Homo sapiens: one gene and its partner. The protein of the gene in region 1 interacts with the protein of each later gene in a pairwise test. Each region holds a gene or a part of one and is shown on either strand. Other genes may lie near its edges.

Region 1 (7,479 bases):
GTATATTTATTATTATTTGTAAAACATGTGTTACTTACCTGTTCTATCAGTAAAATTTAAAATAAATGTTTATATGTATATATTCACCCACCTCTCTGAGAACTGGTTGTTAATCACCTACCAGCACACCACTGCTCCCACCTCCTGTTCTATCCCGATTTCTTTGTTCCTCCCCCACATTCTTCCTTGAAAGACATTGTCCTTCTCTTTATTTAATGGGATTCTCCAACCTCTCTCCTGTCTCAGAGCCTTTGCTGCTGTCTTTTCCTTACCCTGAAATGCTCCTTTTTTTCCTTCTCAACACCTTTCACTCCCAACACATCAGAGATCCTTCCATCTTAGCTAAAACATCACTTTCTTAGAGGAAGCCTTTCTAAACCCCTCTGACATGGTGAGGGCTCCCTGATAAATACAGTCGCAGAACCCTGTGCTTCTCCTTCATAACATGCTGTCACAAGAGAACTTATAAGATTGTCTGTGTAGTTTTTATTAATTGTCTGTCTCTCACACTAGGCTGTAAATTGCATGACTGCAGGAACCATATCATTTTGTTCACTGCTGATTTGCCAGTGCTTAACAGACTGTTTGGAAAATATTAGCTGCTCAGTAAATGCTTGTTCCTTTTCCCCTTCTTTCTTTCTGTGCTAGTTAGAATTAATCCCATGAATAGAGAGCACATTTTCTGTTTGTTATGATTAATGGAGAGTATTTTATGACACCCTGAACTTTTCCATCTTATCACATAACACAAGTGAATGTTATTCATTCTTTATATGATTTACTTTATTGTTATGGTTATTGCTGTTATTATTTTGCTGAGTGTCCCTTGTTCATGGGATGGTGAGCTTTCAGAGCTTGGGTTTTGGGTCTCTCCTACTCAGCACTAGCACATTGCCTGGGGCATCCAGTTATCAGGGACACAGTGGTGAACAAGATAGGTGTAATCATCTATTTATGTTCCATATAGTGAGAGAGACATGAAACATGTCCATGTATGCTAAGTGGTGCTCAGTGCTTAGTGCTACAGGGTAAAATAAAGCAAGGTAAGAATGAGAAGAGAGGCCAGGTGCGGTGGCTTACGCCTGTAATTCCAGCACTTTGGGAGGCTGAGGCGGGAAGATCGCTTGAGCTTAGGAGTTTGAGACAAGCCTGGGCAACATAGCGAAACTCCATCTCTACTAAATACAAAAAATTAGCTGGGTGTGGCGGCACGTGCATGTAGTCTCAGCTACTCGGGAGGCCGAGGCAGGAGAACCGCTTGAACCCGAAATGCTGAGGTTGCAGTGAGCCAAGATCATGCCACTGCTCTCCAGCCTAGGTGATAGAGCCAGACTGTGTCTCCAAAAACAAACAAACAAAAAAAGGAATGAGAAATGAGAAGTGATATCCTGTACTGGGAAGAGAAATGGCATTGTATTTGGTGTGTCCAGGAAAGGCCTCTCTGGTAAGGTGAGTAGAAACCTGTAGCATGCAATGGAAGGTCTCTGGGCAAAAATCAATCCAGGCTATGGAACAGAAAGTACAGGGGCCCTGGGGAGAGAATGTGCTTTATGAGTTCAGAGAACAACAAGGAGGCCTCATGACCGGCGTGAGTGATAGATGAAGTTAGAGCTATGTTGGGATGGGGTAGGATTCAGGGTCATTTAGATCCTTGGGGTCACTGTAAGAAGTTTGGCCATTACTCTGAGAGAGATGAAAGCCTGTGGGGGTTTTGAGCAAAAGAACGACATGATCCTTTGGTTTTGGTAGGATCACTCTGGCTGCCATGCTGGGAACAAATGACAGAGTGCAAGCATGGAAATAAGGAGGCCACTTAGGAGGCCATGGCACAAACCCAGGTGCAAGAAACCTGGCATGGACCAGAGAGATGACAGTGGAGGTGGTGGGAAGGTATCAGATTCAATACATATATTGTGAAGGTAAAACTTAAACATTTTCTAATGGATTGATTGTGTGGTGTGAAGAGAAGAAAAATAATTGTTGAAATTTTTGAATGGGCTCTTATGTCATACCCAGCACTATGTGCTACACCACTGGAGATCCAAAAGGATGGGAAATACATGCCACCCTCAGGGAGTATCCAGTCCAGTGGGCAAATACGATTGTCAGTGTGAAGGCCCAGAGAAAATAATAACAGCTAACCCCTACACAGCACTTTCTGTGTGTCAGGTACCAGCGCTTTGCATAGATTAATTCATTAAATCCTTGCAATAACCTCATGAAATACATAGTAATTATATCTTTATTTTACAGATGGGGAAACTGAGACAGATGTTAAGGAAAAGCCTAAGGTCTAAGGTCACACAGCTTGTAAGTGGCAGAGCTGGGATTTGAACCCAGCCGGTCCAGCGCCACAGTCTGTGTCTTCAGTCATTGTCTCCATCTCTGCTGGAGAGAATGAAATCACAGTACAGGCTCTTATCATCCAAGAAGAAATGGGCTTGGTGTCACATAGAAGTCACACAGGAGTCCCTCAGGCAGCCCAGAGCTGCAGAGTGCAGTAAGTGTCAGTGCAAACTCTCTTCAAAAGAAAATGTACAGGCCTGGGGTGACCCTCTTCCTTGTGCCGAAGGGGCTGGAGGATGCACCATAGTACATTGGGAACCCCCAGAAGTAGGTAGGAAGTAGGAGCCTGTAGGACCTACAAAAATGCTATTTTATAAGAGAAGCAAAATATAACATTTCTAACAGGTTTGAATGTAGATCTTCTACTAGCTGACCTTGTGACGGGAAACAAATGACACACATCACAGATGGGAAATGCACACATCACATACACACACACACACACACACACACACAGGTGCATGTGCAGCCATGCTGCTTTGGGAAGTTGTTTCTCAGCTCACTCATTGATTGCGTTAACAAAGAGTTACACAATGCTTTTTCTGTGAGAGGCACTGTGCTAAGACAAAGGGTAGATACAAAGACAAGTCTGCTACCATGCCTGGTTTTTGTAAAAGAGATAAAACAAGTAGAAAACTATAATATATAAGGTCAGAGGATTTAAGGGACAGCAAGGAAACTACAAATAAAAGATCAAGGGAGTTGGGTGGGGAGAATAGGGGCAGATGAGGAATGGGGCTGGCTTCAGGGAGAACTCTGCTTCTGTTCCACGCCTGGAAGATGTGTGGGTGTGAAAAGAAAGTAACTGAGGTAGAAGGAAGAGCTTGTGCAAAAGTGTGGAGGCGGGAGAGCTTGGTACAGGTTGGCAGAGGTTGGGATGTCTGAAGGGACAGAATGTGAGAAAATCCTAGAGACATTAGGGCTAGATCTTCAGGTGTGGAAGGGGTTCTAAATGTCAAGCATTTTGTGTTCGTTTTTTAGGCATAGAGAGTGCATTGGGGATTTTCGATGAGGGGAGTGCCTAGCAAGTTGCTGGGTACATAGTAGGCTGATAATCAATCAATGATGGTTCAACTAATGAAGGAGAGAAATAATAATTGCCACAAATTATTGGGTGATTGCTATCTGCCACACACTTTTCTAAACATTTTCACTACTCATGTAATTCTCACCACAGCCCATGAGATGGTTTCTCCATATCCATTCTACAGATGAGGAAACTGAGACTCAGAGAGGCTAAGTGTCTTGCTCAAGGCTGTGACTAAAGAGTGGGCATCTAACCAGAGCCTGTGCTTCCACACTGCTGTGCAATTTGGAAAACAGAAGAAGGGGAGAGAAGAAAAAGGGGTTGTGGGACCAATGTCATCCAGAAAGGAAGCTATGATAGGCCCAAAGTAGGAGAAGAACAATGTGGGTTGGAAATAAGAGACATTCCAAAGATGCAATCAACCCAAATCTGTTATTATTTGATATGGGTGGCTGGGCAGAGGGAAGGGTCAAAAAGGCTCCCAGCTTCTAGTTCAGTCCCGGGGAAGTGATAGAGCTATTCAAAGAAGTTGTAGTGAGAGAGAGGGAAGATGACAGTTTGGTTTTAGTTGATGTGTACAGAAATACGGGTGCCCAGGAGCCCACAAAACGGCCAGAGGAGAAATGCTTTCAAAGGCAAGCTGCAGGGCTCCTTGGTTTTGTCACATTCCTCATTCTGGGGCTTTGCGGTTTTGTCTTGGGAATCTCGAGGCTCTCCCAAGGTTCCTTTCTATGTTTATATCATTTAGCAGGGAAGGATTGTTAATGACTAATCTGTGTCCATGAGGCACAGAGCCAAGGAAGAGATGCTGCTGCTAGCCCAGAAGGCCGCCTGTGATCATGCACAGTACACTGGAACTCTCTCCTCCTCCTCACCTCATTGTCTCCCCGACTTATCCTAATGCGAAATTGGATTCTGAGCATTTGTAGCAAAATCGCTGGGATCTGGAGAGGAAGACTCAGTCCAGAATCCTCCCAGGGCCTTGAAAGTCCATCTCTGACCCAAAACAATCCAAGTAAGTACCTAATTCCTTTGGGAGTGGGTTGTGTATCTCACAGCAACAGAGAAAAAATAGTCACTTAAAAGTTTCTCTTTGACATCTGTAATGTATGTCAATAAATGAATTCTAAGTTAGTAGAGTTTGATGTAAAGTCCTGAAAATTAAAAAAGAGAGAAACTAAAAAACAAAAAGAAGCAGAAGCAAAAGTTAATGAGTCTTAACAGTTGCTTACCTATTGAAAACTTATTTAGAAATACTCTTTTAACATTGTGGTCACCTGAGTAAATCACTGGAGATAGTGCATTTCAGAAATGTCTCCGTTCTGATTCCATAAACAATTTGACTTGTATAGTGTGCTATATTTTGGTGATTTATCAAATCTTGATGTGAGTTTGGGAGTATTGCTAATGTCAGATGACTTGGGAACTAAGAATAAGACATTTAACCTATGCTTAATTGAAATGAAATTTTTCCCTAGAAGAAGAGTAGGTGGAAAAAGTCTTCTTTCTTGACTTCAGTTGTAAACTCTTCTATTGCTTTCCATTTTGAATATTAATATGACAGGAAATATCAGATGGAAATATTTTTAAAAGATAGAAATGTGAGTATGACGAAGAACTTTAGTAATAAAATTGTCCAAGGACTAAATTTATAGATAAGATACCTCTTTGTCTCCTTATTGACAGAGTGAATGGGGCAACTGTGGAGCCTGACTTACTTCTTTTAATTGGGTTTTTATTCAGAAGGGAGGGGCAGGAGGGAATGACAAGTGACTCACCTTGAATTCTTCCTCTAAGAAACTCACACCTGAGCTTTGAGCTATAAAGAAATCTGATGCTGTTTCTGGTGCTGTCTTAGAATCACTTCAGGAGTATTGACAAGAGGGGTAGGAACCCTTAGAAATAATATTAGTGATAAATAAGAAGGCAGGAAGAAACTTTTGGAGGTGATGGATAGGTTTATGGTATAGATTGTGGTGATGATTTAATGAGTGTATGCCTATCCCCAGACTCATCAAAGTGTATACATGGAATATGTAAAGCTTTTATATGTCAGTCACACCTCAGTAAAGTGGTTTACCTATCTATCTATCTATCTATCTATCTATCTATCTAAATTTTTTTTTCTGTTCCTAAAAAAAGGAAGGGAGAAGAGAGGAAAAGATGTTCAGGGAGCTACCATTTTGTTTCTAGCTGTGATTTTATAAAATGATAGACACTTTTATCTTTGTGTTACGTTCCTACCCCCAGTCCTCCAAATTATGGATCTGTGCCATTTGTACCGTGGACTTTTCTGTTTTCTGAGGATGTTGCAACAAATACTGATGCAACTCCTGGTTAACTGATAAAGTACTGGCCAGGGACAAAGCTCTCTTGTCCTGAGACCCTTCCTCAAGATTTGCAGCAATTTCCCACCACGTACCTCTGCCCTCTCCTCACAGCTGGAGAGGGAAAGTCATGGAATCCTTGTCCTTCCTCTTGTTTCCACCTCTTCAAGATTGGGCCAATTGCAATGGAATATCCATTGGTTGTGAGGCCTTTGTACTCTGCAAGGAAAAGAAAAGAAATGTGTGTATGTATGAGTGTGTGATGGAGCTAACTTTTCTACAATGTCTACTAACATGTCCTAGCCTTTACTTCATTCGCCTGTTTCCTTCTCACAAAAACCCTGTATGGGAGTTTTTCTTTACTTTTTATTATTATTTTTTTGAGACAAAGTCTCGCTCTGTCTCCCAGGCTGGAGTGCAGTGGCGCTATATCGGCTCACTGCAGCCTCCACCTCCCGGGTTCAAGCGATTCTCCTGCCTCAGCCTCCTGAGTAGCTGGTACTACAGGCGTGCACCACCATGCCACTATTTTTTGTATTTTTAGTAGAGACGGGGTTTCACTATGTTGGCCAGACTGGTCTCGAACTCTTGACCTCAGGTGATCCGCCCGCCTCGGCTTCCCAGAGTGCTAGGATTACAGGCGTGAGCCACTGCGCCCAGCCAGGAGTTTTTCTTATACTCATTTTACAGATGAGAAAACTGAGACTCAAAAAATACAAGTGACCCGTCCACAGGCAGATAGTTAGGAAGTAGCGGGACCTGAACTTGAGGGCGGGTCTTTCTGACTCCAAAGCCTCTTCCTGGCTACTCTGATATTGGCTATTGGCGGAGGCTGGGAAAACTTGAAATGGGGAATGATCGGGGAGCGGCGAGGGGGGACCAGCCGTTAAGCATTCCAGCCTGACAGGGGTGATTTGTTAAACCCAGGAACTAGTTAGACGTTTCCTGAAACCTCCTGCATAGGGCATTTTCGAGAGATTGCACCATCAGTAGGGAAACTGGAAAGTTTGGAGCACTATTTGTTTTAACCCAGAGACCAGTCTAAGATAGCTGGGTGAATATTTCCGTTATCAGCGTTTTAATTAAAGACCACAATGAACTCTCCATGCTGCTGTGATTAGGGACATCTTAGAGAGGAGCTCAGAACTGCTGTGGCTCACAGTCTCTGGATTATGAATGCCATGAGAATGCATATCATGATGTGATAGATTTTCAAAGGCTCACATTGTCATTAGGTGGGTGCATAAAGGACAGAAAAGGTTCTTTACTTCATAGAAAGAGATTTCCCTTCCCTTTGCTCTCAGTCTCATTTTTATCTTAGTCTCTAGCAACACAGATTATAAAGGGGAATAAAAGAAAATAGGAACAAGCTAGATACAGTGATGAGTGCCTGTGATCCCAGCAGCTCGGGCGGCTGAGGTGGAAGGATTGCTTGAGCTCAGGAGTTCAAGGCTGCAGTGAGCTATGATAATGCCACTATACTCTAGCCTGGGTAACATAGAGAGACACCACCTCAAAATTTTTTTTAAAAAATAAGAAATAGGAACAATTTTCCTCCCAGGTATTTTTTTATTGTCACAGTAGTTTCTACCAGTGAAGATGTAGCTAAAAGGCATCACCATACGAGTGTCCTTAGTCACCAAGCTGTATGAGGAGGCAAAAATCATTATTACATACAAATATTCATCCTTCTGTCTTTTCTCTCCCTTCTCTCACCCTGCTCTGGAATCCCCTAACCCCTTTGCTCTTCACAGTGAATTATTTTCTCCCTCAGTTTGC
Region 2 (7,502 bases), on another chromosome or scaffold:
TATTTGGTGCCCTTGATGTCCCTGCTCTTCCCAGTGCTCCACAAGCTGCAAACGCTTCCCTTTCATCCCCATCTCCTCCCCCACCCGTCTCCTCCTCGCTGCTCCTCTCCCAGCCCCTCCCTCCAGCTTCTGCAGTTGTCACTAACACAGTTAGCCACTTGATTAGTGACTCAGTGATTCAGAACCCAGGAACCTTGGTTCTCCTAAAACTTCCATGCTTCCCTCCCTAGAGTCAAGATAAAGGTTCTCCCCTCACCTGCCTGCCCAGATAGAGCCATTAACGTGAGAGGACTTGAGTATTCAGTTTGTTGGAGTTGCCCTGGCTTCTTCCCATTTCCTTTTTATGTGCCTTTTCCTGGGGCTTCTCAGGCTCTATTTACCTTTTCTCCAGAAAAGGTGGACAGAGAAGGTTTGAGCTTCGAATTTATGTAGCCCAACTCTTCATTTACAGATGGGAAAACGAAGGCCCCCCCCCCGGCCCCCGCAGAACTGAATTGCCCAGTTGCTTGGCTAGTTCTTGGTGGAACCAAAACAGACAAAGCAAAAACTCAATCAAACTGGCTAATTTGGTGGGAAAAAATCTTGTGAAGGAGTGAGCAGTGCCAAAACGAGACTTGATGATTATTTAAAAGGTCTTTCACTAATTTTATCCTTGTCATCCTGCTGGCGGTGTAAGCAAGTGATGGAAACCAGAGCCAGGCCAGCAACCATAAAGCCACCAGGGCTTCTGGAGAGGCTCTGATGCGACTTCCTACCGCTGAGGTCTCAGAGGCTCCTCCCTCCCAAATACATGGAGACCCAGAAGACTGCTTGGGCCCCTCCACTCCCTGCCAGCGGGCAGGATGAGGAGTCAGTAACAGCCAACAGTAGTGAATCCCACATAAGTTCCACATTCACTACTTGTTTCACAATTCGCTTAGCATGCATAGCAGCGAATTGACAGAATTGTTTCCCCTAAATGTAGGAAGGTGCATAAAATACAAGAAGCTTGTAAAAATATATTTATTGCAAAAGTTATATCAGTCTTGTATGTAAGCACCAGCCTTCTCCAGGGAAAGACAGGGGTGGTAGAATGAATAAAATTAACTCAGTATTTTGACTGCTTGCTGCAATGGAAGAGGGAATTATGTTTCCCAAGCTGGGTATGAAGAGAAGGAATATAGCCTTGGAGGCAATGGAAACTAAGCCAGAGCAGCTTAGAAAAGTCACCCCTCCTCCTGATTCAAGACCAAAGACAGGGAAAAAAAAGTCACTCTCAGTGTGAACATGAAAGCAAGTCTCACCCAGCCTAGATGTTGGATGTCCTGTGCGGTCCCGTTCCTCCCTGGTAGAGCTTGTTCTGTCTCACTGGGATCTGCCAAGTTAGGAGCTGAGCCACACTACTTCTGCTGCTGCTGTTGCTGCTGCACATTGTTTGTGATTAAGAGTTTTATTGATTTTCTAGCCCATGACCACATTGGTGGGGACAGAGTACGACAGGGGAAACTGGTGGAAAGCCAAGTAGAAAGAGAGTTTATGAAATCAGCTCTCAATGAAGAAAACTGTGGGAAAGAATGCGATGGAAGCAGATTTGGGGCCAGTCGATGTGGGAAAGTAGAACAACTCAAAAATGCTCTTCAGATTTGAACTGAAACAAAGCACTTTGCCAAAACATAGGAGGAGAATCCAGTCTGTGAGAAAGCCTCAGCACTGTTTATATAAAACAGAATATTCCTATCTGCAAAATCATTGCTGACAATGCTTAACCCACATTCTGTACCAGGCACTGTGTTGTGTTCTAGGACCATAAATAAGAATCAGTCCGTCTAGAGAAGGAGACTCGAAACATACACAACATGATTTGTAAAGATACAAGTGGATCTTAAGAGAGTCATAAAAACATTTTGCCCCAGCTTTGGGCCCAGAGCCAGCAGGAATGAATGGTGGGGGAAGAGGGATGGGACTGTGTCCCTGCTGCTGCCTGCCTCATGTGCAGATCTGGTGAAGGTTCTCTGTAGTTTGACCCCGCATCACTACTGACTTTGCTAGAAAGACCCTGCTCCCTTCCTGTCCCTGCCTCTTGTAGGTCCAGAGGACCCCTGCTTCACCGACGGCGGGGGCCGGGGTTGGGGGGTGCCGTAGGCAGGGTTTCAGGTGTTCTCAAGGTAGTAGGTAGAAAGGGAGCGCTTGACAGTTTGGGTGCTTAGTACAGGCTGGGAAAACCTCACAGCACCAAGGGGACAGTTGGACACTTGCAACATGATTCCTCCCCTCTCCTTCACTCCCACACGTACCCACCCACCATGAAACTGTGTCTTCTGTACGTCTTGAGAGATTTCTTCCAGCCTCCCAGCCCTGCCTCACTGCCTTTGAGTAAGAGAATAAAGTCTTTTTGCTGCTTCCTTCAGCTTTCAGCATTGTTTTTCACCCTGAAAATCAACTGGAAACTGGGGAAGACGAGTATCTGGTATGTTTTAGTGCACCAGTATAATATGCAAGGGAGGGGGTGATATGTAAAAAGGTTAAATGAGAAAAAATATCATATAATTCAAAACCAGTGAGTGACCGAGCTCAGTAAATGATGGCTTTTTAAAAATCAGATATAAAATCCTGTTTCTGTGGTTCATGTTTGAAAATGATGTAACCTAAAGTGGCTCTTTCATCTTCCACTGCACGTACACCTTCTCTGTTTAGCCTTGGACTCCCAGTATCTGCACTGGAGGACTTTAAGGAGGTCAAACCTAAGCCAAGAGACTTCAGAGAGGTATAGACTAAGCTAGAGGGTGTCTTGCTTGAGCCAAAGAACCTCAGAGTGCTCTAGCCTAAGCCCCAAGGACCTTATGTCAATGTAGACTAAGCCTCTAATCTGGAGGAATTCAGGCTGGCTGGCTGGGCTCCCAAGACACCTCTGCAGGTGAGCAGCACCAGGACTCAAGTCTCCTAACTTCTGGTCCAGGACCCTCCCCTTTCTAAAACAGTCAAAGGGGCTGAAATTCCTGGAAGTGTGTGGGGCTAATGTCCCTAGCATTGTTCTCTTTTTCATAGAGGAAAAGCTGACTTTAAGAAACAAGCCGGCAATACTTGACAAAAATATCTACCATTTAAGCACAGAGCCAAAAGCAAGGAGTAGTCTCCTGGGCGCTGGAAGTATTTTGAAATCCCCAAAGTCTCATTCATTGATCAGAAAACAAAATGGAATTACTTTTTTTTTGCTCCCTCCTCCCCTCCATGCAGTAGCTGTTCTTGGCGGGTGCCCAGAGCGGCACCCGGTAATTCCACGGTACATTGTGTACATTTACATCTGTTTAATCGGCTATTTACAGTCGCCCTTTACCGCCACCTGTAAGAGGCAGCGCCATAACGACACTAAGTGGCCGGGCCGGAAGCCGGGTGCCCAATGGTTTTCTCCACTTGAGGACGCCTGAATCTGTGAAGTGGTTGGCACTTGGAGAAACAGAGAGACAGCTGGGGACATCACACGTACAGGGCGGGAGGCGCGGGAAAGAGGCGCGCCAGACGGAGGGTCCTTCCTTCCTCGTTAGCTCCACTCGGCGGCTCCTTTTCCATTACCACAGCAGCAAGGAGGAACCTGCCGAGCCTTCGGTGCGGCTTGTTTCCTGCCTGACAGAGAGCCCGCTGCCATTTGGATTTGATGAATTTCTGAATCACCCGAGGGCCTGGCGACCCGAAGGAGGGCGGGGAGTGGGGGCGCTGGGGTGGACCCGCCATCCTGCGGAATCCGGGCCAGATAACAGCCCCCGAGCTGGGGAAATCGGCTTGCGGATGTGATGCGGGACCGCGAGGACACCTGCGCTCCCTTGCGTGTCGCACTCGTGCAGCTCCCGGTGGCGACGGGGTGATGTGGGGGCGAGGGTGAGAGGAAGTCCAGGCGCCAGAGCGTCAGAAACGCTTCCTTAGCTTCCCTGGCACTTTGGAGGTTGTCTCGAGGGAACACGGACAGTGCACGACGGACTTTCAAGTTGCTCCCGGCACAACGGGAGGTCGGGAGCTCGGAGCCCCTACGGGCGGTCCAAGTGTCCGCGAGAAGCCCGCAGCGCCCAGGACCGCGTTGAGCGCTCGGGGCGCGCCAAGCCGCACCTAAGCAAAAGAGAAACGCTGACGGGCCGGAGGCGGGTTGGCTGGGACGCGGAATACGCGCGGCCCCGGAGCGCCTTTCGTTTTAAGGAGCCTTACTTCTGGAAAGGGACAGGGAACTGTCAATCAGCGAGGGAGGGAGCGCACCGGCGCTGGGTGATGTCAGCGGATCAGCTGCTCGATAACAAAGAGAGGGTATTACAGGAGAAAGTTGCAGCAGCGGCAGCGGCCAAGGCGGCACACCGGAGCCTCCGAGGCGAGGGGCAAGTGGGCGAAGGGAGGGGGGACGACGGCTGCTGCCGCAGCAGCTGAAGGCCAAGGAATTGAAAGGGCTGTAGGGGGAGGCAGTGCGAGCCAGCCCCGACTGCTCCTCCTCTTCCTCCTCCTCCTCCAAACTCGCGAGCCCCAGAGCTCGCTCAGCCGCCGGGAGCACCCAGAGGGACGGGAGGCAGCCGCGCAGCCCCGAGCTGGGCAGTGTCCCCAGCCGCCATGGATAGCGACGACGAGATGGTGGAGGAGGCGGTGGAAGGTACAAGCATTTCTCCGGGGCCGGGGGAGGAGGCGCAGAGGGCCTGGAGCGCGGAAGGAGTGGCGGGCTGCGAACAGCGCGGCGCCGGGCCCCGCGGCCGCCACTGTCCCCTACACGGGTGGCCGGTTGCCCGGCTCGGGCGGGGGCCCGACAGCCACGGTCACGCCGCCGGGAGCGCGCACTGCGCGGCGGGGCGCAGGCCGAGAATGGGGCTCCGCCAGGCCGGGGGCGCTGGAAACGCACGGCCGCTCCATCCCGCCCGGCCACAGCCTGCATCCACCCTCGGAGTTGCGAAACCTGCCCCGCGCTCTGGCCTTTCCGCCTTTGGGCGCGGAGGGTGGGTGCACTCCGCAGGGCAGCCCCTTGAGGCCGGCGGACTCCGCGGAGCAATCCCCTAGCCCAGTTTTGGCCACCCCGATCCCCTCCCGGCCGCCAGCCCTTCCCTTCTGCTGCCTCTGCGCCCCGCGGCGGCCGCGGCCCCGTCCGGGTAGGTCCCCCGGCGCAGCGCACGGGGCCAGACCAGGCACGTGGCAGCCGCGGCCCAGGCGGCAGCTCTTCCGAAAAGATGAAATCATTGTCGGGCGACGGACAAGTCTCCCGACCCGGGACTCGAACGTGCGCCGTCCGGGAGGCGGGCAGCCCTCCCCTCAGCTGCCCCCGAGCGAACTCAGTCAGGCCTCCCCCTCCCCCTTCCTGCTTGGCTGGGATGCAGCCGCCACGCTGTGCAGGCGCGCCGCGAGTCCGCACCGAGATTGCTGGGTGACACTTAACTTTCTGAATTCCATGCCGTTGGCTGTGGGTGATATCACCGCCTCAGTGTCGTGTTTCTCCGCCCCTTCTCTTCTACCGCCCCTCCCCCGACTTTTCTCGCCACTTTGTTTTGCTGAGTTTCTCCACCTTTTTTTTTTTTTTTTTGTTAGTTCTGAAAAAACGATGTGGGGACGTTATACAATCTCGTTGTTTGTATCATAGGATGTTATGATTTTGTAACAGCGAATACTGGAAAATACTCTTTAGCGTATTTATTTGGTTCCACTCCATACAGTACGTCGTGATGTTTTTCAGTGTGGTGTGGTATGATACCAGAATGTTTTAAACTAAGCATGTGAGTAAATAATTTTTAGCTGTTGGTTGAATCTGGTTTCTGTCTGATTTGTATAAACACAAGTTCTGACGAAGGATAAAGAAAAAAAGTGGCGACACTACAAATGCATAAGGATACATGGTTATTGTTACACTAGGGAAAAATCAGTTTTAATGTTTTCATAAACATAACTCCCTTTGCAGTGCTTCTGAGATCTTAAGGGGAGATTAAGCAGACTAATATTTCTGAACTCTTGAAAAGTATCCAATGTAATGCCAATATTAAAACTTATTTCTTCATCTAACTTCGAAGCCAATTAAAGACTGTGGTTTTTGTTAAGAAAATTTTCACCATGTTGTGAACTCACAGAGCTATTTATCTCTCTAATAAATAAAGCCAATGTTGGGGCTTACTGGAGTGAGGCCCAGATACATTGATTGAGTTGATCCACAGGGAGCCTTCTGAGAAGTTAAAAGTTGTTGACTTCTTGTGCCTCCATGTTGTGAAAGATAAAGGAAAAATGATCTCAGATTGTTAGGGCTTGCTCTCTTTCTTCAACGTTTACTTTTACTTGTAAAAATTAAATACAAACCCTTAATTGCTGGTACTGTTCTCCATGTTAAACCACATCCATTCCCCTTTGAAGCTGTTTACAAACATATGTCCAGTTGTCCATAGTCCTCAGGCTCCTTTGCAGACTGTGACCAAGAGCTTTAGAAATGGCAGTATTGTTTTTTGAGAACATCCACTGGATTCGAAAACAGGGAAGTTCATATAAACAGGGATGGTTTTGTTTTATAGGGTAATTATGTACATTATTGTCCAAAATCAGAACCCCCTTGAGAATGAGAGGGCACACTATTAATAATGATGCTGGGGCAGGTAGCTTAAGCCTTGAATGTCTGGGGCAATCTGGGACACATGGTCACTCAGTTGTAGCTAACTAAACAATTAGAGCAGCACAGAATCTTTAAAAGCCCCTAGAAGCATCTCAGGCTCTAACTTGCACAGTGCCAGGAGTGTGTGTGTGCACATGCAGTAAACCGTACCTGTGCGTGCACTCTTGTCCAGCCATTCTTGGCCTTTTTAGTGCTGTTTGCAATAGTCTTTACATAACATCTAACACTTACATAGGGGACTGGTATAAACTGCTTCTGTTCTTTCCCAAAGAGAAGCTAGTCTGAATATCTTAGTGTTTAAGTACCAACTAATCTACCTCTTTCCATAAACAGAGCCTCTGTTCTCAGTAGTTTCATTGTCATAGCTATTATTATCATTGCTATAATTGTTTAGTTCTTATTAAGTGCAGGCTCTGTGCTAAGTGTTTCACAGACATTATCCATTCAGTCTTATTCAGTCTTATGAGGTGGGTACTAATATTATCCTAATTTTACAGAGGCGGGAACTGAGGCATACAGAAGTTAAGGACTAATCCAAGAACACTCAGTGAGGTGGAGAGACTGGCTTGGACTTCCAAAACAGCCCTCCACCAGACCAAACTGTCTTCCTACATTTTTTATTTTTAATGAGTTAGTCAAATTTATGAAACACTTGATAACTGAGTTTGGAAGCAACAGTTAAATATTATGTCAGTGCCATTTTTTATCAGTGTAACTCTGTAGAGGTTGGTTCTGACAGAGTTCAGTGACTTTCAGAAAAATGTATTTGGGGAGAAAGAACCTGTGTCCTCTGCAATAGCTATCTTTTTTCTTCTTCATTAGAGATTTACTCTGGGGAAGAAATTAGTCTCTTCAGGATTGAGTTTAAATGTCTTATATATCATGTGCATTTGGTTCTCTGTCAGGGTATGATTGT

The links. The genes of interacting proteins can lie anywhere in the genome.
Region 2: the proteins of NR1H4 (region 1) and SETD7 interact in binary tests that used the Homo sapiens proteins (3 or more experiments, as listed by UniProt).

What each region holds. Positions count from the first base shown.
Region 1 is NC_000012.12:100,469,672-100,477,150, forward strand, and holds the start of NR1H4 (bile acid receptor), read left to right. Parts: upstream 1-4,194; 5' UTR 4,195-4,388; intron 4,389-7,479. UniProt on the Homo sapiens protein: Ligand-activated transcription factor. Receptor for bile acids (BAs) such as chenodeoxycholic acid (CDCA), lithocholic acid, deoxycholic acid (DCA) and allocholic acid (ACA).
Region 2 is NC_000004.12:139,553,199-139,560,700, reverse strand, and holds the start of SETD7 (histone-lysine N-methyltransferase SETD7), read left to right. Parts: upstream 1-4,481; 5' UTR 4,482-4,563; coding exon 4,564-4,603; intron 4,604-7,502. UniProt on the Homo sapiens protein: Histone methyltransferase that specifically monomethylates 'Lys-4' of histone H3. H3 'Lys-4' methylation represents a specific tag for epigenetic transcriptional activation.